Linked DNA regions of Homo sapiens. The protein of the gene in region 1 interacts with the protein of each later gene in a biochemical or structural test. Each region holds a gene or a part of one and is shown in the gene's direction. Other genes may lie near its edges.

Region 1 (7,242 bases):
TACTAAAAATACAAGTTAGCCGGGCATGGTGGTGCATGCCTGTAGTTCCAGCTATTTCAGAGGCTGAGGCATGAGAATTGCTGGAACCTGGGAGGTGGAGGTTGCAATAAGCCAAGATAGTGCCACTACACTCCAGCCAGGGTGATAGAGCAAGACTCTGTCTCAAAAAAAAAAAAAAAAAAATAGTAAAAAGCTTGACTCCAAAGCTCATGCTCTCTCTCTATACTAAACAATATGGAAACTATTTTAGGAAGTATTTCTTTTTGTTTGTGTGTAACTGGGGAAACAAGGGATCTCCCAGGAATTTGGGCATTCTATGAAGGAGGGAACTGTTAGGGTTGAAGGGAAAGGCAGGGAGAATTCAGAGACGTTTTATAGCCTTGGTGTCATAACGAAGCAAAATTATCTACCTACTACATCACTGATGTCAGGGAAATTGAATGAATTACCACAATGCTGTATTCATTTGTAATTTTTGAATGACAATGTTTATGTTAGTAACCAATAGGTAATGAGTCTGGTCTATTAAGAAAGACCTGGTGGTAGCATTTTTTGCCTATATGAACTCTCCTGGAGGTAATACTTTTTCTTGCTAGAATGTTTCTGAGTAAGTGTGAACAAAGAAAATCTCTGGCCTGAAGAGATCAGGCCTGTGTATGATAGACAAGGACAAAATCTGAAAGTGAACTCAGCTATCTGTTAAAGTCATTCTAATTCCCTCAACTCACTTGTAACATCTCGCCTAATGGCTTTGCTGCTTATTCTCTAATAGCTACCTGATAGAATTGTGGTGTTCTGAATTAACAAGGCATGAGGGAATTCTAGCTGTAAGGCTTTCTGGTAAATTTTTTCACGTGTCTCAGACTTTGGAAACTGGCCCAGTTCTAATGAACTATATTGATTAGAAAAATATCGATTAGAATTCTATCGATTAGAACTCTATCATTTAGAACAATGATTCTCAGATTTTGGTGTGCCTAAGAAACACTCTGGGAGCTTGCTAAAAGTGTCAATTTCTAGACTCACATCCAGAAAGTCTAATTTTGTTTGCCTGGATTGGGGCTCAGGTGTCTTCATTTTAAAACACATTTCCCCCAGGTAATTCTAATGCAACTTGTACAGGAACCAGAGGCTGAGAACACTCATCTAGACTGAAGCATGTTTTGTGGTGGGTGTGGTGTTAGGGGTTTTTCTTGCTGCAGCTAGTCTGGAAGACACACAAAAAAGAACGTAGTTCTGCCTATTAAGCAGGTTGGGGCTGGGCATGGTAGCTCATGCCTGTAATCCCAGCATTTTGGGAGGCTGAGGTGGGTGGATTGCTTGAGCCCAGGAGTTCAAGAGCAGCCTGGGCAACATGGTGAAACCCCGTCTCTACAAAAAATACAAAAATTAGCTGGGTGTGGTAGTGTGCACCTGTAGTTCCAGCTACTTGGAAGGCTGAGGTGGGAGGATAGCTTGAGCCCGAAAGGTCAAGCTGTAGTGAGCTGTGATCATGTCATTGCACATTCCAGCCTGGGTGATAGAGCAAGACTCCGCCTAAAAACAAAAACAAAAACAAAAACAAAGCAGCAAAGAAGGTTGGGTGGCCTTGAGGTCTGACCTAGAATCTAAGCCCTAGATAAAGATGGAGGTTCAAGTTGGCCTAAGCACTACCAGACTTTTTGGAAAAATTGCAGCCAGCAATGAGTTCTTGGGCCCTCCTTCCTAGAATTGCATTTGCGCCTTAAAAATTTTGGTAACAACTTGACTAGTTAATCATCTGAGGGAGTAAAAAATTTTGGTGTTACCTTCTCTGGGGCACTGACTTCTGCATCCTATGCTCTGTGAGCCCCATCCTGGGATATGGTCTCAGCTCTTGGATGTTGATATGTTTAATGACATATAGGGCTATATTGAGGAAAAATAATACCTACTCTGGCAAATTGTTATAAGGATTAAATGGGATAATACAGAAAATAACTAGCTGAGGATCTGGCATATAATGAGTCCTTAGGAAGGTGAGGGATCTGCCTGTAGTATCTATCCACCTTAAGGGTCTCCACAGTAAATCTGTGAATTTGGTTCATAGGGGCCATGCCCTCCTTTTCTATCAGGGTTCTGTAAACATCCCTCTTCAAGCTAGAAGGGGTTTGAAAAGGACAGACAGGAGAAGCTTGCTCTTTGTTCAACAGCGTACGAGGAAGAGGTGCTCAATACGTTGTTTTTTTCTTTCTTCTATGTATCATTTTAAAATCTCCACTTTTCCGTTCTTCGCTAGCCCTTTCATCAGCCATTTTTTTTCTCTCTCAATCTCTGTGTACACACACATACACACATACCCACACCACGTACACATTTTAAGGCCTCCCATGACCCAGAGACCAAAGCCAGGGTTCCAATCTTTAAAGTCCATTCCTGGGGTGCTCTAGACTTTGCTTCTCTTCTCCCATGGTCTCATATTTCAATTTATTCCTTCTCCTTGATTAAAGTTTAGAGCAGTTCCCTTAATCTGCTTACTCTTTATATGTTTTAAAAAGGCCCTTTTCCAAGTTGTTGCACAAGAAGAAACCTTCATTTTCTGCTTAAAAAAATTTTTTTTTGTTTTTCTTTTTTTTTTAGAGATAGGGTTCTTCCTATGTTGACCAGGCTGGTCTCGAACTCCTAGCCTCAAGTGATCTTCCCATCTCGGTCTCCCAAAGTGTTGGGATTACAGGTGTGAGCCACTGCGCCTGGCCAAAAAAATTTTGTTTTTAGTATTTATTTTTTAGAGACAGGACCTTGCTCTGTCACCCAGGCTGGAGTGCATGGCACGATCATGACTTACTGTAGCCTTGAACTCCTGGGCAGACACAATCCTCCCACCTCAGTCTCCCAAAGTTAGGGTTACAGGGTTGAGCCACTGAGCCTAGCCTGAAACTTTCATCTTCAACACACTCCTGGTCTCTCCCATCTTTCCTATTAGTTTTCCTAGCTAAAAGCAGAGTTCTGACAGCTTTTCCTGGCCCTATGCTGAACACACATAAAATTTCCTCAATTTTGTGCAAGGCTCTGATGTGTGATTCAATAAATTACTTGCCATTCTTAACAATACCTTACTGTTTGTTTCTCTTCAGCGAATGTTCTTTCACCCAAAGCCTACTGAAACCTGACAATGTGTTAAACACTGTGCTAGACATTGTGGATATAAAATGAATAAAGCACTATTTTTTATTTGTCAATTATACCTCAATAAAGCTCTTTCCGCCTAGGAGGAGTTCATTGTCTGGAAAGCAAAGGCAGATATGTAAACATATATATTATAGTTCAGAGTGCTAAGTATCACACTGTGATGTGAAGAAAAACTAATTTCTTCTGGGGAAGTTGATAAAAGATCTCATAGGAAGTGACATTTTCATTGGTCTTGAACCATAAGTAGGAGTTTGCCAACCAGAGCACAGGGGTGAGAGTGAGGGCAGGGGTAAAATAGGGCTTCCAAGGGAAGGGAATCCAGTGTGCAGAGGCTCTGAAATGACCGACGAAGATTCTGACGTGTTTAGGGAAGTCTGCTGGGTTTGATGTGGTTTGGTGCATGGCGGAGTGATGGTGGGAGGTGCAAAGAGATGAAATTGAGAGGGCCCAGTTGAAGCAGGAGGATTGAACTTTATTCTAGAGGCAATAAGAGAAAGAGAAAACTGTTTAAGCAGGGGAGGAAACGATCAGGTTTGTCTCTTACTTGTTCGTTTCGTTACAGACTTCCGGGTTTTGGAAACTGAGGTGCTCCGCTTGCTTCATCAGAACAGCTCGGGTAGCCTCTGAGCTGAAACACGGCTTTTTTTTTTCCAGGTCTAGAAACGGCATGTTTTCAATATACCCAAGGCTACTAAGTTTGATCCCAGTGCCCATTTGTGCTAATGACGTTGGCCAGGGACGCCAATTTACTACCCTGACCCTGTCCTTCAAATATTGTCTCTCTCTCCTTGGCTAGGGTTGGACATGTTCTGACACCTTTCGTCTCTTTGAACCCCATTTTTCCGTTCTGATAATCTTTTTCTTCAGTTATGCTGACCATGTCTTTAAATACATTGCTAACGTTTTAGCTCATCCCACCCTACGTTTTAATCCCTCAGATGCAGACATCGCGGACAGCCACGCCCACTCAAGAAATTTCCGAAACAGAAAGTTTGTCTGCAACAGCGCGCCGTACTGACGTAGCAGTGCGCAGGCGCAGTCCCGGCTCCTGGCGGCGTGTTCCTCTTTTCCTCGGTTCCCAGTGTTCTGGCAGGTAAGGAACGCCGGCTCTTCGCCTCTCAGCGCGGCTTGTCCTTTGTTCCGGACGCCCGCTCCTCAGCCCTGCGGCTCCTGGGGTCGCTGCTGCATCCCGCACGCCTCCACCGGCTGCAGACCCATGGCCGAGCGCGGGGAACTCGACTTGACCGGCGCCAAACAGAACACAGGAGTGTGGCTAGTCAAGGTAATGTTCGCGAGTCTCCCACTTGCGCTCCTCCTAACACAAGTATAGTTTAAGTAACTTGAGCCTATCCCGCTCCGTGCGCCTCTTAAAGTTCTTTTACGGCTATCTCGTTAGAGCTTCACACATTTTGAGAGGCAGGAGTCATTGTTGTATCTGTTTGCAGACGAGGAATTAGTTTAGGGACGCAAAGTGTCTTTCAGCCAGTTACTACTCTGAATCTGCCTGGACTAGATCTCTTTCTCACGGCTTTCCTGGAATCTTGTCTTGGTGTCCCCAGATTTGGACGGTGCATTTTATCCCAGACTGAAGAATTCCTTGTATCTTCCCTTGGTGAAACTGGTTTTAGCCATGAGCCTGCGTGAGGTAGTTGAATGTCTACTTTCTGTACAGTTTTCTCGGCCAGAAAGTAGGACTGGTCCCTGCCTACTCTTAAAAGTGTTCTCTTAGGTTGATGGTCCTTAATGAAGCTCTCAAAAGAGGCGAGAGAGCCCCAAACTCACAGAAGGAGAGGTCATTGGACTGGAGTATTCTTTTAGAGCACATTTGGGTCTCGTGAAACTGGCCGTCAATAAACGTTTTATGTGAAGACAGCAATTTTGGTTAGCTCACAGTAAGCACTATTTGTGCTTTATTGTTTCATATTGGGGAGTGTTTTCTCCTAGGGGAGTTTCATAATACTTAAGCATATTCAAAATGTGATCCTGAAAGTCGTTGAAACTTAAAATGTAAGGACTTTTGGTTTCTTAATGCTTTAACTGTTTTATCACATGGCTGAGTTCTCGTCAATTAAATCTAAGAGGTCTTTCTTGTCGGCCTTCCTAAAACAGCCCCCTTGTGATCATTTGCTAACACGACAGATGTGTATTACATTCTTCAAAGCACTTTTCACAGTGTAGAGTGATTTTGTGTTCATATGTTCAAAGTTGGTTACCTCTGTCTTTCCAACACACAGAATCACATTCCATGAGAACAGGATCTTTGCCTGTCATACCCAGAATAGTGTTTGGCGCATGGTAATTACTCAACAAATAGATGATGAATAAATGCATGACCTCTCATTCTTCAGCCCTCGCCTTAGTCTGTGGCACTCATTTGACTTATTTCCAAACTCAGTGTGACTTAAAAGGATGGATTAAATAGGCATTTCTCTCTCCAGCAGCATGTTACTTGGGGGGAGAGTCACTAAGGAGGAGATTGCCCTTACGGACTGAAGGAAAAAGCTTGAAAAAATGGTGTGACTTGAGATGGTGCCATTGTCCTAGGAGCATGGTAAATGCTCAATGTTTGTCTTACAGGATTTGGATGGGTGGACACAGTGTATACCATGGGGAATGGAACAGAAATGCAAGACTCAAAATATATAATCAGCATGGCGTGTTGTGGAAAACAGAGAGAACCTAGAGCAGAAGATCTGTGTAGATGAAGATGGGGACCATATACTCAGATTGTCATATCATGAAACGGAGATATTCTAACTTTAGTTTACAAGGAAGTAACGAACTTTTTGGAGGATTTGAGTGAGGTAGAGATGCCAGATATTTATTCAGGAAAAAAAAAAATGTTTGGCAGTGTGCAGTACGAATTAGAGGGGAGGGTAACCAGAGTCACAATTAGAAAATTATCACAGGATCGGGCTGGGCATGGTGGCTCACGCCTGTAATCTCAGCACTTTGGGAGGCCGAGGTGGGTGGATCATGAGGTCAAGAGTTCGAGACCAGCCTGGCCAATATGGTGAAACCCCATCTCTACTAAAAATACAAAAATCAGCCAGTCATGGTGGTGTGCGCCTGTAGTCCCAGCTACTTGGGAGGCTGAGGCAGAAGAATCACTTGAAACCGGGAGACGGAGGTTGCAGTGAGCCGAGATTGCTCCGTTGCACTCCAGCCTGGGCAACAGAGCAAAAATTCCTTCTCAAAAAAATAAATAAATTAAAAAAAAGTGTAATTTGTTGCTTAGAAAGTGTATCTTCATTCTCATCTAATCAGAATTTGAATTGAAGTACATATTGATTTCAAGTTTTTTCTCCTTACATTAATTTTCCTATTAAAAATAATACCTTGAGTTCTGATCTTTGTTGCTAAATAATGTTTCTTCCTAGGATATCTCACGGTTTATAGATCATCTTGTACATATTTAATTCCATCACTAGACAGGTATAGAACTGTGTAAATACAGTAAGAACTATACATACAAGATCTCTGAGAGTTTTGAGCGGGAAAAAAATTAGTGCTTCACCAGAACTGGGAAGACATCATAAAGAAGGTGACGTTTAAGAAAAGCCTATTTGGAGGTTGCAGTGAGTCAAGATTGTGCCACTGCATGCACTCCTGCCTGGGCGACAGAGTGACATCCTGTCTCAAAAAAAAAAAATGGATGTGAGTGTGATCTGTCTGGGACATCTGTCACCCCATTGATTACTAGGGTTGATTTGGCTAATCTGGCTGGCTAGGCGGGTGTCTCCTTCCTCCCACACTGCTCCATGTATGTCCCTCCCGAAGCTGCACGCTTGACCAAAGAGGATGACCATCCGGATAGAGGAGGACTGGTCTTCAGTCAAGGGTATATGTATGGTTGTACTCCCCTGCTAGAACCTCCAAAGAAGCTTTCAAGAAGAGCTTATGGCAGGCCGGGTGCAGTGGCTGATGTCTGTAATCCCAGCACTTTGGGAGGACGAGGTGGGCGAATTGCTTGAGCCCAGGAATTTGAGACCAGCCTGGGCAATATAGCAAAACCCTTTATCTACAAAAACTATAAAAAGTTAGCTGGGCGTGGTGGTGTACGCTTGTAGTCCCAGCTACTTGAGAGGCTGAGGT
Region 2 (7,025 bases), on another chromosome or scaffold:
GAAGCCATATGTTGTGTTCTGACAACTGTTGAGGATGTAAAACAACAAAAAATGAAAACGGGGTTCAAGTACAATGTATAGACCAAACCGAAAAGGAGAGAAAAGTGTGTCCAGTAGTATGCTGTGGTACTACTTTGGTGTCGAGCCCAGGTACTTCCCAGGCATCCTTAAGCCCTGGGGTAGCAGGAAGGCTCTAAGTTCACAGATTTGGATCTAGGTGCTACTTTGTTATATCTTACAATATGTAGTCATACCTGAGTATTTATAACCTAAAGTACGTATTTTCTTTTGACTGACTTTTACTTTTCCTTTATTACAGGAAGGGCCTTATATTTTCCCCCCAAAATATATGCATAGATTGGTTATAGATTGGTGTATAGAGTTTCCTTATAGTATGGTACTGTGGATATAAAAATATTTCTTATAAAAAGAGTATTAAATCTGTTGGGTTGATAACCACTGATTTCAAATAAAAGGGTTAGTTGAAACTAGTATTAATAACAGAATATGATTCTCCATTGAAATAGTTCAATGGGATGTCTCTCTTAAAAATTATCCTGTGGAGCCTGGCTAAGATGGTGAAACCCTGTCTCTACTAAAAATTCAAAAATTAGACAGGCGTGGTGGTGCATGCCTATAGTCCCAGCAACTCAGGAGGCTGAGGCAGGAGGATTGCTTGAACCTGTGAGGCAGAAGTTGCAGTGAGCCGAGCTTGCGCCACTGCACTCCAGCCTAGGTGACAGATCGAGACCCTGTCTCCAAAAAAAAAAAAAATTATCCTGTGGGCTGGGTGTGGTGGCTCACATCTGTAATCCCAGCACTTTAGGAAGCCCCCAAGGTAGGTGGATCCCTTGAGCCCAGAAGTTCGAGACCAGCCTGGGCAAAATGGTGAAACCCTGTCACTACAAAAAACACAAAAATTAGTCAGTCATGGTGGTGTCCACCCGTAGTCTCAGCTACTGGGGAGTTTGAGGTGGGAAGATTGCTTGAGCCCAGGAGGTTGAGACTGCACTGAGCCAAGTCACACCACCGAACTCTAGTCTGGACAACAGAGCAAGACACTCTCTCTATGAAAAGAAAAACAAATTCCCTGTGGCCTAGGGAAATTTAACTTGATTTAATCTGTGTGGATAGTCTAGCCATTTTTAGTTTGGAACATGTTAAGTTGATATGGAAGCTGTCCTTCCTAAGCACTTTAATTATATTCTTATTAATCACAACAACTCCACTGAGGTAGTTGATACTATCCTTACTTCTTAGCGAGTAAAAGGTGGCTTGAAATTGTTTAAGGGATTTGCTCAGGATTACACAGTTACCAAAACACAGGCTGTGTACTCTGAATTTCAAAGCCCAGTTTTGTGTTGTTTTGTTTTTTTGTTTTGTTTTTTTTTGAGACTGAGTTTCGCTCTTGTTGCCCAGGCTGGAGTGCAATGGTGTAATCTTGGCTCACAGCAACCTCCACCTCCCGAAGCCCAGGTTTTTATTTTATTTTATTTTATTTTTTATTTTTATTATTTTTATTTTATTATTATTATACTTTAAGTTTTAGGGTACATGTGCACAATGTGCAGGTTAGTTACATATGTATACATGTGCCATGTTGGTGTGCTGCACCCATTAACTCGTAATTTAACATTAGGTATATCTCCTAATGCTATCCCTCCCCGCTCCCTCCTCCCCACAATAGGCCCCAGTGTGTGATGTTCGCCTTCCTGTGTCCATGTGTTCTCATTGTTCAATTCCCACCTATGAGTGAGATATATGCGGTGTTTGGTTTTTTGTTCTTGCGATAGTTTACTGAGAATGATGGTTTCCAATTTCATCCATGTCCCTACAAAGGACATGAACTCATCCTTTTTTATGGCTGCATAGTATTCCATGGTGTATATGTGCCACATTTTTTAATCCAGTCTATCCTTGTTGGACATTTGGGTTGGTTCCCAGTCTTTGCTATTGTGAGTAGTCCCGCAGTAAACATACGTGTGCATGTGTCTCTATAACAGCATGATTTATAGTCCTTTGGGTATATACCCAGTAATGGGATGGCTGGGTCAAATGGTATTTCTAGTTCTAGATCCCTGAGGAATCGCCACACTGACTTCCACAAGGGTTGAACTAGTTTATAGTCCCAACAACAGTGTAAAAGTCTGTTCCTATTTCTCCACATCCTCTCCAGCACCTGTTGTTTCCTGACTTTTTAATGATTGCCATTCTAACTGGTGTGAGATGGTATCTCATTGTGGTTTTGATTTGCATTTCTCTGATGGCCAGTGATGGTGAGCATTTTTTCATGTGTTTTTTGGCTGCATAAATGTCTTCTTTTGAGAAGTGTCTGTTCATGTCCTTCGCCCACTTTTTGATGGGGTTGTTTGTTTTTTTCTTGTAAATTTGTTTGAGTTCGTTATAGATTCTGGTTATTAGCCCTTTGTCAGATGAAAAGGTTGCAAAAATTTTCTCCCATTCTGTAGGTTGCCTGTTCACTCTGATGGTAGTTTCTTTTGCTGTGCAGAAGCTCTTTAGTTTAATTAGATCCCATTTGTCAATTTTGGCTTTTGTTGCCATTGCTTTTGGTGTTTTAGACATGAAGTCCTTGCCCATGCCTATGTCCTGAATGGTAATGCCTAGGTTTTCTTCTAGGGTTTTTATGGTTTTAGGTCTAACATTTAAGTCTTTAACCCGTCTTGAATTAATTTTTGTAAAAGGTGTAAGGAAGGGATCCAGTTTCAGCTTTCTCCATGTGGCTAGCCAGTTTTCCCAGCACCATTTATTAAATAGGGAATCCTTTCCCCATTGCTTGTTTTTCTCAGGTTTGTCAAAGATCAGATAGTTGTAGATATGCAGCGTTATTTCTGAGGGCTCTGTTGTGTTCCATTGGTCTATATCTCTGTTTTGGTACCAGTACCATGCTGTTTTGGTTACTGTAGCCTTGTAGTATAGTTTGAAGTCAGGTAGCGTGATGCCTCCAGCTTTGTCCTTTTGGCTTAGGATTGACTTGGCAGTGTGGGCTCTTTTTTGGTTCCATATGAACTTTAAAGTAGTTTTTTCCAATTCTGTGAAGAAAGTCATTGGTAGCTTCATGGGGATGGCATTGAATCTATAAATTACCTTGGGCAGTATGGCCATTTTCACGATATTGATTCTTCCTACCCATGAGCATGGAATGTTCTTCCATTTGTTTGTATCCTCTTTAAGTTCATTGAGCAGTGGTTTGTAGTTGTCCTTGAAGAGGTCCTTCACATCCCTTGTAAGTTGGATTCCTAGGTATTTTATTCTCTTTGAAGCAATTGTGAATGGGAGTTCACTCATGATTTGGCTCTCTTTTTGTCTGTTATTGGTGTATAAGAATGCTTGTGATTTTTGTACATTGATTTTGTGTCCTGAGACTTTTTGCTGAAGTTGCTTATCAGTTTAAGGAGATTTTGGGCTGAGACAATGGGGTTTTCTAGATATACAATCATGTCATCTGCAAACAGAGACAATTTGACTTCCTCTTTTCCTAATTGAATACCCTTTATTTCCTTCTCCTGCCTGATTGCCCTGGCCAGAACTTCCAACACTATGTTGAATAGGAGTGGTAAGAGAGGGCATCCCTGTCTTGTGCCAGTTTTCAAAGGGAATGCTTCCAGGTTTTGCCCATTCAGTATGATATTGGCTGTGGGTTTGTCATAGATAGCTCTTATTATTTTGAGATACGTCCCATCAATACCTAACTTATTGAGAGTTTTTAGCATGAAGAGTTGTTGAATTTTGTCAAAGGCCTTTTCTGCATCTATTGAGATAATCATGTGGTTTTTGTCTTTGGTTCTGTTTATATGCTGGATTACATTTATTGATTTGCGTATATTGAACCAGCCTTGCATCCCAGGGATGAAGCCCACTTGATCATGGTGGATAATAAGCTTTTTGATGTGCTGCTGGATTCGGTTTGCCAGTATTTTATTGAGGATTTTTGCATCAATGTTCATCAAGGATATTGGTCTAAAATTCTCCTTTTTGGTTGTGTCTCTGCCCGAAGCCCAGGTTTTTAAAGTAAACTATATGCCAATGTGGGCTTTGAGAAGACAGCTTTCTGGGTCATGGTACGGAAATGAGATACACTTAGTTTCTGCTTTGTCAAGGGATCCAGTATTTAAGAATATTTTGGGCTGCTCTCCCTCCCTCATTTTCTACCTTTTTAAGGACTGGATGGTCTTTCCTTGATTATCAGATTCAATTTTTCAAGGTTGGTAAAACTGTCTGGATCTAAGTATTACTTTCTTTCAGTTTTACAACAGTTAATGATTTTGTCAAACACCCCAGGTGGTGATTACTCATGTGTTTATTGGTTTGTTGTGATTTTATTGTGAAAGCATGACTATGTAAAACATCCTAGAATCTTGGTAGAAAAATTTTACTCAAGAAAGGAAACAAAGACACTTTTAGGAAATGCGAACTGCTAGTTTTCTCAGGGTTTCCAGCATTCCCAAAGAATAGTGAGCATTTCATGTAGCTTTTTTTGTGTTTCTCTTCTGAAGTAAAGTAGACTTGACGTAATATATTGTTTTATAAATAAAAAGTTACTTTTTAATCAAACACACTATAGATCATAAAAGTAGCCATTTAAGAAATATGTAAAGCTTTTTGGGTGTAATCTTTTGTGCATTCTAGAGGAAAATCTTGTTCTGCTCTGTTAAATGCTTAGGTATTAGAAATCTTTTTAAACACTTTGGGTACTTTTCTGGCACTGCAAGGATAGTGGATATGATTACCATGTTCTTATACCTGGCTAATTTTCTGTTTTTTTTTGAATTCAGTATATTTAAAGTTGGAGTTCGTTGCTAAAGATGGCAGACCCAGATGTCCTCACTGAAGTTCCAGCAGCATTGAAGCGGTTAGCCAAGTATGTGATCCGGGGATTTTATGGCATTGAGCATGCCTTGGCCTTGGACATCTTGATCAGGAACTCCTGTGTGAAAGAGGAGGATATGCTGGAGCTGCTCAAGTTTGATCGGAAGCAACTTCGATCAGTTTTGAATAATTTAAAGGGAGACAAGTTTATCAAATGCAGAATGAGGGTAGAGACTGCTGCAGACGGGAAAACCACTCGCCATAACTACTACTTCATCAATTATCGTACTCTTGTTAATGTGGTAAAATATAAACTGGACCACATGAGAAGAAGAATTGAGACCGATGAGAGAGATTCGACCAACCGGGCTTCCTTCAAATGTCCTGTCTGTAGTAGTACTTTCACAGACTTAGAAGCTAATCAGCTCTTTGATCCTATGACAGGTGAGGTTTATCCAGTTTGTGAATCTTTAAAATAAAGTGTGTATTACCTTTTTTCTTAAATTGATTCATCTAATTTTTAAACCATCATATATATTATTATAAAAGTGAATGGATCAGTGTAAATCACAGCATACAGTCAGTCTTACTGTCCTGTTTGGCTGTCGCACTACTTTGAGAAGCCTTTGCAAAGCGTTTCTCCTTTACAAGGGAGTTTCTCACTTATGGCCCTCCTGCCTCTGCCCACCCCACCTTGTTTACAACTGCAGCCTAATCTGAAGGGTTGATTTCTCTACCACTTTGAGGCTGTTCTAATTTTATTTTTGACCTCTAGACAGTTGCAATACAGTGTATTTAAATGCTTTGTTAGTGGAAGTAGAAAGTGGTATCAGGAGTATATAACTAGGGCATATAATCTGGATTTGGGGAAGGCCTCTGGAAGAAGTTAACATTTGAGACCTAAAAGATAGTAAGAGTTAGCTAGATGAAATAAGAGGGGAATTCTTTCCAAGATAAGACATTTAGTGTCCTTTAGATACACATTATTGTTGGAAGAAAATTGTCAACAAGATATATAATTGGCCTGATTTGATTGAATAGTTTTAAGGATTTTTCATAACACAATTTAGAAAGCATGCATTATCTGAAAATACAATATGTCTAGCATAAACATGAGAAACTTTAAAGTTCTGAGTTATATAGTTATTTTATCTTGTTATCTGTTTACACAATAAAAAAGAGACTAGTTTTGCTAAATACTCGATCAATTTTGTCTTATTTTCTACAGGTAAAAATCTATAGAAGGACTCAGTGCTATTAAATTAGATTAAGTCCCTTTGTTATGGTTGAATTCAGGAGTATAGGCTACTTTTTAGTTCATAGATCTGCTTTTTTAAAAACTTCGTCTGAAAGTTTAAACTTTGACCCATGAAATATTTGGTTGTGCAAAATTACAGATTTCTGTGTATGTTTTATTTTCTAATTTTTATGTTATATATGGTACATTTTAAATAATTAAAAAAAATTTTTAAGTGGGAAATAACCCCAATATAAATTAAGATTATTGACAAAAAGAGCCAGAAGCAATCTGTGACCTTTTTTTCTTATTTACTGTGAGGCAATGATTTTGGATGAAAACTGATTTAAGGAATTCACAATTGTATTAAACATTTAATTTGTCTGAGCCGAGCTTTTTACCTTGAAAGGGCTCCACAAGGAGAGATCTTGATTATAAGAAAGTCTTAACCATCCTCGGTATGAGAATTGCTTGAGTGTTCTATAGAGGAAGGTTGTAGAATATATCTGGAGCTCTTCAAAATAGACTAGAAAAGTCTCATGATTCTTGCCATTCACTCTAACAGATTTCTTACAGGAGCTCTGGGTTCTTGGTTTTGTAATTCTCTACAGATGTTGGTTTTAACAGTGGAGGCTTCATCACTCTTGACCACAGTAGAAGGTGTTATCCAGTCCCTTAGAGTAATCTAAAATAACATGCTTCTACTACATTTATTTGTCATTTGAGTCATATTAATTTAATTAAACTTTCTAAAAGGAGATGATTCCACTACTTATATATCAGTATTTGGGAGACTGATCATGATACTCTTGAATTTCACCTGGATTCTGAATGAAACTAGTTGACTCAATAGATGGCCTGTGGAAGAGATGGCCTAACATTCCATCCAGTACAGTCAAGGTGACTTGAATCAAGGAGTTAGGGTAGAGGGCATGAAAGTATTTTATGAAATAAAGCTAAA
Region 3 (7,209 bases), on another chromosome or scaffold:
ATATTTAGAGGTCTTTTTGCCTCTTTTCCCCTTAACAAGGATTTCTTATGGTGGTTTCAGTTTCATTTGCATAAAGGTATTGAGAGGGAACAAAAAACATAAAGCTGAGAATCTTGAGAGAGCTCATCTACCCTGTCTGTTGGTCAGACTCAAATGAGAGTTAAAAAAAAAAAAAAAAATCTGTATGCCTGAGTACCATCCTGGATGAATCTAGAAGGTATGGGGTAGAGCTTGACAGGGTTCCTGTGTACCCACTGGGTATCCGTTAGAGGTAAGGGAGAGGAGAGGATTGATAGAGTGTTGCAAAAGTATAGATTATTCATTGAGATAAAGGATTTGGTTTCCCTGCCATGAGTATTAAAAAAATTTAAGTTTTCCCAAGCTTGCATCTCTGACCAAATTTCACATAAAACATTGGAAGGAGGCTGGGTGCGGTGGCTCATGCTTGTAATCCCAGCACTGGGAAGCTAAGGCGGGTGGATCACTTGAGGTCAGGAGTTCGAGACCAGCCTGGCCAACATGGTGAAACCCCGTCTCCACGAAAAAGATAAAAATAAGCTGGGCGTGGTGGCAGGCGCCTATAATCCCAGCTACTCGGGAGGCTGAGGCAGGAGAATAACTTAAACCCGGGAGGCGGAGGTTACAGTGAGCTGAGATCGTGCCACTGCACTCCAGCCTGGGTGACAGAGTGAGACCCTATTTCAAAAAAATAAAAATTGGAAGAAGAGCTTAAAAAAGATAAGATTTTAAAGAGTCCCAAGTTATTTAAGTTGAGTGTAATTGTCATTTAAGGAAGGCAAATGAGTTTATCATCCTTCTTAAAGAGCATCTCTTTTAACTGTTGGACAAAACCATAACTTTGTCATTTTACAAGGAAGAACCTCTTAAGAAGTCCTCAGAACCAGAAGCAATGTGAACTCTCAGCGCTGGTCCTGGTGGGTTTGCTGACCATGACTGGGCAAGCCGTTCTTTTTGCTGCCATCTTCCTCATCATAAAGTGTGGAACATAGGCAATTGCTTTGAGATTCTTGGATAGAAGAGGACAACATTCTGCACCTGCCCCCTTTTTTAAATCTTTGGGGAAAGATGAGTAACTTTCCCCACTACTCTGCCTTCCTGTTCAGTAACTCTTACTTTTGCCTGAAGTAACAGCATCTTCTACTTCTCCATCTAGAGATTTTTGTGTGTGTGCCATCAAGGTTAGCAAACTTTATACGTAGCCTAACACTTAAAAAATGCACTCATTATCTTAAACCTAATAAATTCCAGAGTTTATTTTGGTTCTCCTCTGTTGCCCTTCCTAAAAAATGAGCTGAAGATGACAGTATTTTTCTTTACATGCTTGGTTATGACTTTTAAAGTTTTATTTAAATAAATGTTGAAGCTCAAGTTTAAAGAAGCGTTGCAGAGGCCCACGGTCTCCTGGGTCCCGGCCACCTGTCCATATTCCACATTTGCTGACTGTGCTCCCTGCACTCCACTCAAGTTGAGAGTTCAAATAGTCTTGAAGGGGAATCAGCTTCAGGATGGAAGGACCCAGGAGAGGCCCCGAGGTGGGAGGGTTCTGTAAATACAGACTACTGCGAGTGTCCAGAGCTCTCTGCCATGATACTTCCTTGGGACTGACTTGGCTGAGAACGTGTTCTGTCAGAGGATTTGTTAGAACTCTGCCCTTTTGTCTGAAACTCAAGGCCAAGGAGAATGATAGGAGACTTAGGACAGAGCTGACCCTTGCACCAGGCTGGGAGGCTGCAGCCCTTTTAGATGCCACTTACTGTAAGTGGCCAGAATACCAGAGAGGTGGGTTCCATGGTCAAATGCACAGTAGGTGTTTACCTTTACATTTGGATCACCTTGTAGTCTTTAAATTCTTGGTCCCTGAGGCCAAGTCCACAACTTGCCTTCTAGTCACTTGCCTGCCCGCAGTGGTGGTGGATGTGTTAGCTGGTAGATTTGGAATCAGTCACCAGTCTTTCTGTACTGTCTTGGTTAGCTCTATATAAGTAGGGGCAGCTTAGCCCTGAGGCCCAGAGACCTGCTGTCCTTTTTCTCCTTGAGGGAGGAAATAAAACTGCGGAATACAATGTCCTTCCATAGCATGGGAAGAAGAAAATAAACATCTCCTTTCCAACAGCTGTGACTTGTGTGTGTCGTATAGAACATTTTCCTGTGGGAGTGGTACTGGGTCTCCATTTTCAGCTAGGGGAACCTTTGAAGTGTTTGAGCTAGGTCTCTATAAAAGAATGGATGGGACAGGCTGCCATGGGAGTCATTCTTTTATGACCTTTTCAGTGTCAAAATTGGGGCAGTGTTACTTTAATACTCAACCATTTGCACAGTCATCTGTCAGGAGGTACTGTCTATAGCAAAAGGAGAACACGTCCTGTGGGTCCCTAGTTCTGCCTTTGGAAGACATGGCTAATGGCTCAGGTATTCTTACTGCCTTTGCATGGAAAGGCTAGAAAACTCCTGTATTTTTTTTTTTTTTAAAGACAGGGTCTTGCTCTGTTGCCCAGGCTGAGTTGCAGTGTTGTGATCACAGCTCACTGCAGCTTGGAATTCCTGGGCTCAAGCAATCCTCCCACCTCGGCTTGAGTAGGTGGGGCTACAGGCTGGAGCCACTGCTCCTGGCGCCAACTTCTGTATATCTCAACACTCACGATTCCCCAAGGAGAAAGAAAAAACATACTTTTATTCCAGCATCCAGTATGCCTTGTGTATACCAGTTTTAAAGTTGTTGGTTTCATCTCATTAAATAATAATGAAGAGTCCTCTGAGGCAGCAGGAGGATGTGATGGAGAGTGGCAGAAGTCAGGGTCAGGAGACCTGAGTTCTATGAACAGTGGCAGCAACAGCAACCATTATTGGGCGCTTACATGTACCAGGCAGGCACTGTGCTAAGTGCTTTACATGTATGATCTCACTTCATGAGGCAAGGATACTCATCAGTAGTCTCATTTTACAAATGAGGAAACTGAGGCTCAGAGAGTATAAGTCATTTAGCCAAAATGTCCCAGCCAGGATTCTTTTGGATGCGCTCCCCAAAATCTGTCTTCTAACTCCTACCCCATACTCCCTCCACTGGGAGCCTTGTGACTTTGAGCAAGAAGCTTCATCCCATTGGGCCTCGGTTTACCATTGGAAAGGATTTGTGGGCGAGGTTGAATGAGCGCAGCAGATGGCCTGTGGTTATTTAGAGCAGTGCTTCCCTGGTTGTTTGATATCACAGCGCTCATACTTGTGTGGCCCAGTGAAATGGAGGCGGAAACTCAAAGTTTCCACCTTCACAGGGCCTGACTGGAAGGGGCTGAAGGATGATGGGGAGGTTTCTTGTATTCTTAAAACAGACTACCCCTTCCCAACGCACAACCCCCAGTAAGTGGCCGTGGGTTCCCAAGCGCCTCTCCTCCCTGGGCCATGGGCGTGACTGCTGAAAAGCGGGTTAGGCCGGGGAGTTCAGAATCCGGAGTGAATCCGAACTACCCCAGGGAGACGGCAGCGAAGAAAATCTTGTTCTTAGGAGAACGCAATCTTCGGACACCAGAAGTTCCTCTATGATGCTATTCTGTGGCAGCCTTGCACTTGAGCCGGATGAAAATTGTAAAAACCCAGGTTGGGCGACAGGACGGCGCGTCTTCCCGGCTCCTTTCCAGAGTTTAGGAGGAGCCATGCAGACTCAGCCGGCCTTTGGGGGTAGGTGGACAGGCCCGGCGCGCCCTCTCGAGGCCCCTTCAACCTCCCGGGGGCAGCAGCGCCGTGTCGGCTATGAATGGGGCCTCTGGAAAACTCAGGCTTGGAACAGGTAACCCCCCGGTTTCCGCAGGCCACAAATCACCACCCGCAACCGAAGGACGCGCAGGCTGGGAGCGGCGGCGGGGCCACCAGTGCGGACCTCCACTGAGGGCGGCGGGATCCGACCGCAAGGGCTGGTCCCTGAGGCCACTAAGGGGTGCGCTGGGCTAAGGCCGCCTGGGGGCAGGAGCCAGCGCGATCGTGGCGGGCCAGCAGGCGGGGCTGGCTGAGGACTAGCAGCGACCCGAGACCCCAACCCTTCCCACGCGGACCCCGGGATCCCTCTCCCAGCAGCCGCCCATCTAGGGCCCTGAGCCAATAAGAGCTCGAGATATATATGATTCACCGGGCCTGGGCCAATCACCTTGACGCGCGCTCTTCGCCAGCACCTCGCGCGATAACCTGGCGTCCTCGGCCTTCACAATAAAAACTCTTCGCCGGAAAACGACCTTTCCCCGCCCACTGCGCTGACACCGGAAGCGAGGCGTGTCTGGGAGATCACTCCGCGCTCCGGCGGCGAAGGAAAGAACGGACTCTGATCATAGAAGCCTAGTAAAGTAGTACACCTCTCTCCTTTCGTGAGGCCATAAGAACAAACTCCTTTTCTCGTCACAGCTACGCCCTGGGCATAAACGGTTGGGGCGTCAAAGGGAGGGAGGGAAGGGAGCGGGCGGGAGGAGACGGTCACGTGGTCGCGGCGGAAGGATGCGTCTGTGCTGCGTCCCCATAGAGACGAAGTCTATAAAGGGCCGGCGGGCGGCCACGGCAGCCATTTCTACTTTGCCCGCCCACAGATGTAGTTTTCTCTGCGCGTGTGCGTTTTCCCTCCTCCCCGCCCTCAGGGTCCACGGCCACCATGGCGTATTAGGGGCAGCAGTGCCTGCGGCAGCATTGGCCTTTGCAGCGGCGGCAGCAGCACCAGGCTCTGCAGCGGCAACCCCCAGCGGCTTAAGCCATGGCGTGAGTACCGGGGCGGGTCGTCCAGCTGTGCTCCTGGGGCCGGCGCGGGTTTTGGATTGGTGGGGTGCGGCCTGGGGCCAGGGCGGTGCCGCCAAGGGGGAAGCGATTTAACGAGCGCCCGGGACGCGTGGTCTTTGCTTGGGTGTCCCCGAGACGCTCGCGTGCCTGGGATCGGGAAAGCGTAGTCGGGTGCCCGGACTGCTTCCCCAGGAGCCCTACAGCCCTCGGACCCCGAGCCCCGCAAGGGTCCCAGGGGTCTTGGCTGTTGCCCCACGAAACGTGGCAGGAACCAAGATGGCGGCGGCAGGGCGGCGGCGCGGGCGTGAGTCAAGGGCGGGCGGTGGGCGGGGCGCGGCCGCCCTGGCCGTATTTGGACGTGGGGACGGAGCGCTTTCCTCTTGGCGGCCGGTGGAAGAATCCCCTGGTCTCCGTGAGCGTCCATTTTGTGGAACCTGAGTTGCAAGCAGGGAGGGGCAAATACAACTGCCCTGTTCCCGATTCTCTAGATGGCCGATCTAGAGAAGTCCCGCCTCATAAGTGGAAGGATGAAATTCTCAGAACAGCTAACCTCTAATGGGAGTTGGCTTCTGATTCTCATTCAGGCTTCTCACGGCATTCAGCAGCAGCGTTGCTGTAACCGACAAAGACACCTTCGAATTAAGCACATTCCTCGATTCCAGCAAAGCACCGCAACATGACCGAAATGAGCTTCCTGAGCAGCGAGGTGTTGGTGGGGGACTTGATGTCCCCCTTCGACCAGTCGGGTTTGGGGGCTGAAGAAAGCCTAGGTCTCTTAGATGATTACCTGGAGGTGGCCAAGCACTTCAAACCTCATGGGTTCTCCAGCGACAAGGCTAAGGCGGGCTCCTCCGAATGGCTGGCTGTGGATGGGTTGGTCAGTCCCTCCAACAACAGCAAGGGTGAGTGGGCCACCACCACATCGTCCTGGTGGGATCTAGGGTTAGGGGCCTCCTACCTTTGTATCTGACTCACTTGGCCCCATCACTCAAATGTTTTGCAGAGGATGCCTTCTCCGGGACAGATTGGATGTTGGAGAAAATGGATTTGAAGGAGTTCGACTTGGATGCCCTGTTGGGTATAGATGACCTGGAAACCATGCCAGATGACCTTCTGACCACGTTGGATGACACTTGTGATCTCTTTGCCCCCCTAGTCCAGGAGACTAATAAGCAGCCCCCCCAGACGGTGAACCCAATTGGCCATCTCCCAGAAAGTTTAACAAAACCCGACCAGGTTGCCCCCTTCACCTTCTTACAACCTCTTCCCCTTTCCCCAGGGGTCCTGTCCTCCACTCCAGATCATTCCTTTAGTTTAGAGCTGGGCAGTGAAGTGGATATCACTGAAGGAGATAGGAAGCCAGACTACACTGCTTACGTTGCCATGATCCCTCAGTGCATAAAGGAGGAAGACACCCCTTCAGATAATGATAGTGGCATCTGTATGAGCCCAGAGTCCTATCTGGGGTCTCCTCAGCACAGCCCCTCTACCAGGGGCTCTCCAAATAGGAGCCTCCCATCTCCAGGTGTTCTCTGTGGGTCTGCCCGTCCCAAACCTTACGATCCTCCTGGAGAGAAGATGGTAGCAGCAAAAGTAAAGGGTGAGAAACTGGATAAGAAGCTGAAAAAAATGGAGCAAAACAAGACAGCAGCCACTAGGTACCGCCAGAAGAAGAGGGCGGAGCAGGAGGCTCTTACTGGTGAGTGCAAAGAGCTGGAAAAGAAGAACGAGGCTCTAAAAGAGAGGGCGGATTCCCTGGCCAAGGAGATCCAGTACCTGAAAGATTTGATAGAAGAGGTCCGCAAGGCAAGGGGGAAGAAAAGGGTCCCCTAGTTGAGGATAGTCAGGAGCGTCAATGTGCTTGTACATAGAGTGCTGTAGCTGTGTGTTCCAATAAATTATTTTGTAGGGAAAGTACTTGTGCGTTTGAATTCCTTTCCTGGCAAAGTAACCGAGTGAAGCGCCACCCACCCACCCCAAGCTGGTCTTAACATTTCCTGTGAGATCTGGGGGAGGAGGCAGTCCAAGGCTGAAGATCGGTTCCCAGAGTGGGATTTGCTCATCCCTGCTCGGTGTAGGCCACGATGGCTGATTCATGGGGCCCTGGAGCCGTATAGTTGGCCATTTATAGTAAGCTGGGTCCTTTGCCCAGAGCTGAGTGCTGGTTGTGTAGGGGGAGGAGGCTGGAGATCTCTGGGAGATTCAGAGGGAGGGACAGCCTGGGCCTCCACCTGTTTATTCAAGAGGGCTTCATGCCAACAGCTGTCGCATAAAACCCTGAATAAGGTTGCACGGTCTTTGAGATAGCACACAAGATTAGGTTTCACTTGTTACCTGAACAGTTCTGCAGAAGCCTCATCCTGAAGAAAGAAATGGCTCCTTTTGGGAATTGATGCTGAAACAGGACAGGAGCTGAGGGTTGGCCTCCGTTTCTCCTTA
Region 4 (7,025 bases), on another chromosome or scaffold:
ATAAAAATATTGCAAGTTATTGATGACATTTGTTGATTTTTTTTAGCTTAAAATTTAGTAACTCTGGGTTTGAAGGCCACGGTTATTTTTGTTCTATGCATGTTTGTGTTTTTATTTTGCCAAATAGGAAAGTTAGATTGTCTTTTCTGTCTTTGGACATAAGTGCATGGGAACACCATGGTATCACTTTAATTGGTGGATGCTATTAAAGGGACTAAATTCTGTCTAAAAATACCATGCTGGTGTTTATGATAAATTTAATGAAAAGAGCTTGTCATGAAACAGGCACAGTATCTAAATTTTAGGAAAACGTAGGTGCATACATATGAACGAAAAACACAGAGCATATATGAAAATATAGTGGTCATTGGGTATTGGGAATGCAGGTAATTTTTTTCTAACGTATCTTTTAGTGAGCAAATATTTTGTAAAAAGGAAGAAAAATTGATCTCTTTAGTGTGATCTCTTTGAGACATGGGCTTGTTGGTGAATAGTACTCACTGCACAGTGGTTTGGTAAGGTTTCAGTGCACAATGACAATTTATGATACTTTTAAGTATCTTTTTAAAATCTGCATAATTCAAACTGCTTCCTAAGTTTAGTGATGTTTATTATGAGGAAGAGGAAACAGATAAATCCTTGTAATGCCATCCATCTAACGCTTTTCTCCTTGTTTCGGGCCACCTGCTCAATGTGTGATGTATTAAAATTGCCTTCTAACTTACTGTCCTGCTTCTGCCTTCCTTGCGTGTTCTCCTTGCATACAGGGATGGCACATGGGAACTCTGCCTCTAATCTCAATCCCTTTGTAATGTGGACACATGGTAGTCCAACTGATAATCCGCTTTTACCTTGGTGATTCAGTTGTTTAAAGAAAAGTTTTTCTGTTGTGCATGGTGGCCCACCCCTGTAATCCCAGCACTTGGGGAGGCCGAGGTGAGTGGATCACTTGAGCCTAGGGGTTCACGACTAGCCTGGGCAACATGGCAAAACCCCATCTCTACAAGAAATACAAAAATTAGCCAGGCAGGCAGTGGTGGTGCATATCTGTAGCTGCTCAGGAGGCTAAGGTGGAAGTATTGCTTGAGCCCCAGAGGCAAAAGCTGCAGTGAGCCAAAATTGCACCACTGTACTCAAACCTGGGCAACAGAGTGAGACCCTGTCTGAAAAAAAGGAAAAGAAAAAAGAAAAATTTTGTCAGAGGCTTCAGAAATGAATCATTCTCTTGAGCATTTGCTTACTTTAGACAGGGTCTCCCTCACCTAGGCTGGAGTGCAGTGGTGTAATCATGGCTCCCTGCAGCCTCAACCTCCTGGGCTCAGGTGATCCTCCCACCTCAGCCTCCCTACAGGCACATGCCACCACGCCCAGCTAATTTGTTTTTGTATTTTTTTGTAGAGACAGGGTTTCACCATGTTGCCCAGGCTGGTCTTGAACTCCTGGGCTCATGTGATTTTCCTGCTTAAGCCTCCCAAAGTGCTAAGATTACAGGTGTGAACCACCATGCCCAGCCTTTTTTTAAATCTATCACTAAGATTATATGATCACTATACTCTGGTTGTTTATGAGCATTTAAATTAATTTTTATATAAAAAATTAAAAAGTTAGCATAGTCTAGGTGGAATTCCTTCCGTTTTCTCTGTTCTTTGCTGTCCTCCTGATCAAATACTTAGCGGAGCACTTGGAAGCTTTTAAAGTCTTCTATGGAGATTAATTTTTGTTTGTTTGTTTGTTTTGTTTTGTTTTTTTTTTGAGATGGAGTTTCACTCTTGTTACCCTCTTGTTGCGATCTCAGTTCACCACAGCCTCCACCTCCCAGGTTCAAGCAGTTCTCCTGCCTTAGCCTCCTGAGTAGCTGGGATTACAGGCATGTGCCACCACGCCCAGCTATTTTGTATTTTTAGTAGAGACAGGGTTTCTCCATGTTGGTCAGGCTGATCTCAAATTCCCAACCAGGTGACAGCCCGCCTGGACCTCGCAAAGTGCTGGGATTACAGGCATGTGCCACCATGACCAACTAATTTTGTATTTTTAGTAGAGACGGGGTTTCTCCATCTTGGTCAGGCTGGTCTCAAACTCCTGACCTCAGGTGATCCGCCTGCCTCGGCCTCCCAAAGTGCTGGGATTACAGGCCTGAGCCACCACACCCGGCTGGAGATTAATGTTTTAAACTGATGCGTCTCCCTTATCATCCCCACAAAAAAGGAGAAACTCAGAATATTTGCTATCTTTCTAATTTTCATAGCAGTAAATAGTGAATATTGAGCACTTAGTACTACTTTTTAAGCACTTTACATGCACTGTACATGGGTATTATAATAGCTTAGTCTTTATAATCTTTAAAATATGAGGTTAAAGAGAATTTTAGAGCTGAGGTAATAAAGACATAGAAATGAAGTAATATTCCAAGGCTAAGCAGCAAAGGGCAGAGTTCACACCCCTGACTATTATATTAATTGACTGCTAGTACCGTAACTTCTAATTGCTACAGTAACTGGTTTCTGCCGTTTGTTTCTTTCTGTTTGCTGTGTATACACAAAGATGAAATGGTCTGGTTCCTTCCTACTTTCAGCTTCATCACACTTCACTGAAAAAGGTCATGTTTTACAATTGGAGTGTAGAACAAACTCTGATGTGCGTTTCAGTTCTAGCTATGTGATCTTAGGCTAGTTAATCTTATTTGTAAAGTGGCAATAAAATTGGTACCTACCTTTATAAGGCTGTGAAGATTAAGTGAGAACATTTACAAAAGGGCACAGTGAGTAGTATGTGTTAAGTATTCAGTGTTAACTTTTGTCTACTCTGAAGGTATTGCCAGACATTGAGCTTTCTCACCAAAACAGTAATAATAAGGTTTACTTGTGTCTGCTTTTATTGGACATGATATATTTAGATGCTGCCTCTTTGCTTAAAGAGAAAAGTTTGCCTACCAGGCTTTCTTCTCACGGATTCTAGGCTTGAGGTTTATTCTGTATAAATTATTTGGCCAGGTATGTTTTTCATCAGATTGTTACTTTGAAACAGAAGCTTAGGCTTATTTTCTGCGAAGCATTTCCCACGCAAACTTAGTGACATTTTAATATGAAATTATTTGCATTAATACCATTCTAAAAAATGTTTTCTCTTTTTTTCCCATGCCTATTGCAAATTTTGTGCAAAATCTGGTTCTTAATCATTATTACATTGGTTTACCTTTGCATCACATATGAATAGCTGTACTTTGCTACTTTTGACTAATACTTTTTCTTCCAAGAGTTAGAATATCATAGCATAATGTTTCAAGAGGATTATTGTTAGATTGGCACAATAGTTAAAGGAATGCTTTAGGACAAATGTCTGAAATGTGATATTTAAGCTTGGTCCTAGATGTCCATGTTGAGATTTCCTGGGAATAAAATGGCTTAGTTGGGCATTGGACAGTGTAGTTAAGTAAACCCTATCTTGACAAAATGATTCAGATATGTGCTTATATTCTTAGGTGACCGGGTTATTGATGTGGGATCTGAATGGCGAACTTTCAGCAATGACAAAGCAACAAAAGATCCATCTCGAGTTGGAGATTCTCAGAATCCTCTTCTGAGTGATGGAGATTTGTCTACCATGATTGGCAAGGTAATAAGTCCATTTGGCAGGAAATACCAATTGCAGAGTGACCATAGACCTGAGAGTTTGGGAACTTTGCAAAAGTATCAGTCACTGCACCAGTGGGGAATCTTGACCTGTCTAATAAGATTTGCCAGTAATATCATTGTGAATGATGGCTAACTTGTGTGTGTATTCCATCTTAAAGTGGGGAAGACCATTAAATCAAAATTATAAAGCCTTTATATCAGGCCTTTTTTCATAAATGACATTTTCTGTACACACAAAAAATGAGTGTAGTGTGGCCTTCATGAGTTAATATTGATATGTTCTTTGAATATCAAGAATGTCTTCTCAGCTGGGCATCATGGCTCACACCTGTGATCCCAGCACTTTGGGAGGCCAAGGCAGGCGGATCACAAGGTCAGGAGTTCGGGACCAGCCTGGCAAATATGGTGAAACCCCATCTCTACTACAAAAAAAAAGGAAAATAGAAAAATTAGCCAGGCTTGGTGGCGGGCACCTGTAGTCCCAGCTTACTCGCGAGGCTGAGGCAGAAGAATTGCTTGAACCCAGGAGGCGGAGGTTGCAGTGAGCCAAGATCGCGCCACTGAACTCCAGCCTGGGCAACAGAGTGAGACTCTGTCTCAAAAAAAAAGAAAAGAATGTCTTCTCTTTTCTCTCTATACCACTTAAGATAAATGGGAGGTTAGTGTAACCTCTTTTCTGATATTAGTGAATTTATGACTTACCTAACTTTACATTCCTTATCTGTAAAATGAGAATAAGAGTACTTATAGAGTTTTTGAGGGTTTCATGAGAATGTATGTAAAGTATTTATATAACATGTATTGTATACTGTGTGCTCAGTCAGTGGTAGCTGCTATCATTGTGTAAGGCAATAGTATAGTTTTCTTGGCAGCCTGATTCTCACTCTGTTATCCGAGTTGGAAGTAATAGTGACGGTATTACTGAGGGCTAATCAAGGAAGTATACACCATTTTATAACTTCATGTATACTATTGCATAGTCTCTTTTTTTTTTTTTTCCAAAAAAGTCTTGTTTAAAATCTGTCTGGCTGGGCACAGTGGCTCATGCCTGTAATCCCAGCACTTTGGGAGGCCGAGGTGGGTGGAGATCAGGAGTTCAAGACCAGCCTGGCCAAGATGGCGAAACCCCGTCTCTACTAAAAATACAAAAAGTAGCTGGGCATGATATGATGGTGGGCACCTGTAATCCCAGCTACTCAGGAGCCTGAGGCAAATAATTGCTTGAACCCGGGAGGCGGAGGTTGCAGTGAGCTGAGATCGCGCGACTGCACTCCAGCCTGGGCAACAGAGTGACACTCTTGTCCAGGCAGGTCTTGAACTCCTGGTCTTCAGCAGTCCTCCCGCCTCAGGCACCCAAAGTGCTGGGATTACAGGCATGAGTTTACCATGCCGAACCCTGTATAGTCTGTTTTGTTTTTGAGACGTTCTAACACTGTCGCTAAGGTGGGAGTGCAGCAGTAGCTTGATCTCGTCTCACTGCAACCTCCACCTCCCAGGCTGAAGCGATCCTTCCACTTCAGCCTCCCAAGTAACTGGGACCACAGGTGTGGGCCACGACACATGGCTAATTTTTGTATTTTTTGTAGAGACAAAGTTTCGCCATGTTGCCCAGGCTTGTCCCAATTCTTGGGCTCAAGTGATCCACCCACCTCGGCCTCCCAAGGTGCTGGAATTACAGGTGTGATCCACCATCCCTGGGCAAGATAGAAATATTTTTAAGCTGCTAGATTTATCACATAATAAATTTCTATGTGTACTTGGGCATATTTCTCAACTTTCTATCTTTTCCTGTCCTGGTCCAGTTAGTCAAATGCCATACAACACTGTTTTAGTATTTAGTAGCACTAGTTTTCCCTCATTGCTCTTTTTCAGCATTTTCTTCGCTAGTCTTTTCCATTTAAAGGTTAAGTTTGTTTCATTTTTTAAAAAAATTTAGGTTTGTTCACTTGCATTTTTTGTACCTTTGGAGTTGATTAAATGATTTTCCTCTTCAGCTCTATTAATATGATGTTTTATGTTATTAGATTCTTTAATATATTTGTGGAACAGTCTCCACTTGGTTGATATTACTGCCTTTTAATACCCTGTTGGATTCTGTTTCCTGTGGGGTTTTTTGGTTTTCTTCTTTTGAGACAGGGTCTCTTTCTGTCACCCAGTCTAGAGTGAAGTGATGTAATCATAGCTAACTGCAGCCTCAAACTCCCAGGCTTAGGTAACCCTCCTGCCTCAGCCTCCTGAGTAGCTGAGACCACAGGCGTGTGCCATCACACTCGGCCTGTTTTGTTTTGTTTTGTTTGAGACAGAGTTTCGCGCTTGTCACCCAGGCTGGAGTGCAATGGCACGATCTCTGCTCACTGCAACCTCCGCCTCCCAGGTTCAAGCGATTCTCCCGCCTCAGCCTCCCAAGCAGCTGGGATTGCAGGCATGTGCCACCACGCCTGGCTAATTTTGTACTTTTAGTAGAGGTAGGGTTTCTCCGTGATCATCAGGCTGGTCTCACACTCCCGACCTCAGGTGATCCGCCTGCCTCAGCCTCCTAAAGTGCCAGGATTACAGGCATGGGCCACTGCGCCTGGCCTGTTTTTTAATATTTAATATTCTCACTGGGGTTTTGGTCAGATTCATTTGCAAATTGACACAGGGAAAATTGGCTTCTTCATAATAAATCTTGTATTCAAAAATTCATAATGCCTTTCCATTTCCTTAGGTATCTTATGTGTCCTTCAGGAGATGTTTGAAAGTTTTCTTCATGAACGTCTCACATGTTTCTCAAGTTTATTTCAAGATTTTTGTTGTTGTTTTAATTGAAAAATTTGCTTTCCTTGTCTTTTAAGTTGGTTGATTGTACTTATGAAGGGTATTGATTTCTATTTATCTTGACCTTGCTGCTTTAATGAATTATTTATAGCAGCTGTTTTTTAGTGATTTTCTTGCATATTCCAGGTGTATAAAGGTACTATCTGCAAATAGTTTATCACATCCTTTCCAATTTTGTACTTCCGGTTTTTCTCTTGCTTAATACTATTGGCTAGTTTTTCCAATCAGTGTTACAAAATGGTAGCAGTAGGAGGTACCTTTGTCTTGTGATTTTGGTGATAATGCTGGTAATGTTTCTCCATTAATCATAGTACTTTCTTTGGGCAGAGGAGAGTGGTTTTCTAATGTAAAGAAGTACTCATTTGTAGCGTCCTATGAGTTTTTATCAAAGACGAATTTTGATTTTGTTCATTTGCCTTTTTAGCGTCTTTGGAGATGATCATGATTTTTCTTCTTACATCTATTAATATAATGTTTTACATTATTTGATTCTCTAATATCTTGTGGAACAATCTCTAGTTGGTCATGATATACTACCTTTTAATATGCTGTTGGATTCTGTTTTCTAGTATTTAA

The links.
Region 2: the proteins of GTF2F2 (region 1) and GTF2E1 form a complex in vitro, tested with the Homo sapiens proteins (2 studies listed by BioGRID).
Region 3: the proteins of GTF2F2 (region 1) and ATF4 form a complex in vitro, tested with the Homo sapiens proteins (one study listed by BioGRID).
Region 4: the proteins of GTF2F2 (region 1) and GTF2B form a complex in vitro, tested with the Homo sapiens proteins (2 studies listed by BioGRID and IntAct).

The regions. Positions count from the first base shown.
Region 1 is NC_000013.11:45,116,293-45,123,534, forward strand, and holds the start of GTF2F2 (general transcription factor IIF subunit 2), read left to right. Parts: upstream 1-4,217; 5' UTR 4,218-4,363; coding exon 4,364-4,429; intron 4,430-7,242. UniProt on the Homo sapiens protein: TFIIF is a general transcription initiation factor that binds to RNA polymerase II and helps to recruit it to the initiation complex in collaboration with TFIIB.
Region 2 is NC_000003.12:120,745,730-120,752,754, forward strand, and holds part of GTF2E1 (general transcription factor IIE subunit 1), read left to right. Parts: intron 1-4,793; 5' UTR 4,794-4,823; coding exon 4,824-5,271; intron 5,272-7,025.
Region 3 is NC_000022.11:39,516,000-39,523,208, forward strand, and holds ATF4 (cyclic AMP-dependent transcription factor ATF-4), read left to right. Parts: upstream 1-4,562; 5' UTR 4,563-4,752; exon of another isoform or gene 4,753-5,354; 5' UTR 5,355-5,446; coding exon 5,447-5,672; intron 5,673-5,773; coding exon 5,774-6,603; 3' UTR 6,604-6,684; downstream 6,685-7,209. UniProt on the Homo sapiens protein: Transcription factor that binds the cAMP response element (CRE) (consensus: 5'-GTGACGT[AC][AG]-3') and displays two biological functions, as regulator of metabolic and redox processes under normal cellular conditions, and as master transcription factor during integrated stress response (ISR).
Region 4 is NC_000001.11:88,860,568-88,867,592, reverse strand, and holds part of GTF2B (transcription initiation factor IIB), read left to right. Parts: intron 1-3,478; coding exon 3,479-3,612; intron 3,613-7,025. UniProt on the Homo sapiens protein: General transcription factor that plays a role in transcription initiation by RNA polymerase II (Pol II). Involved in the pre-initiation complex (PIC) formation and Pol II recruitment at promoter DNA.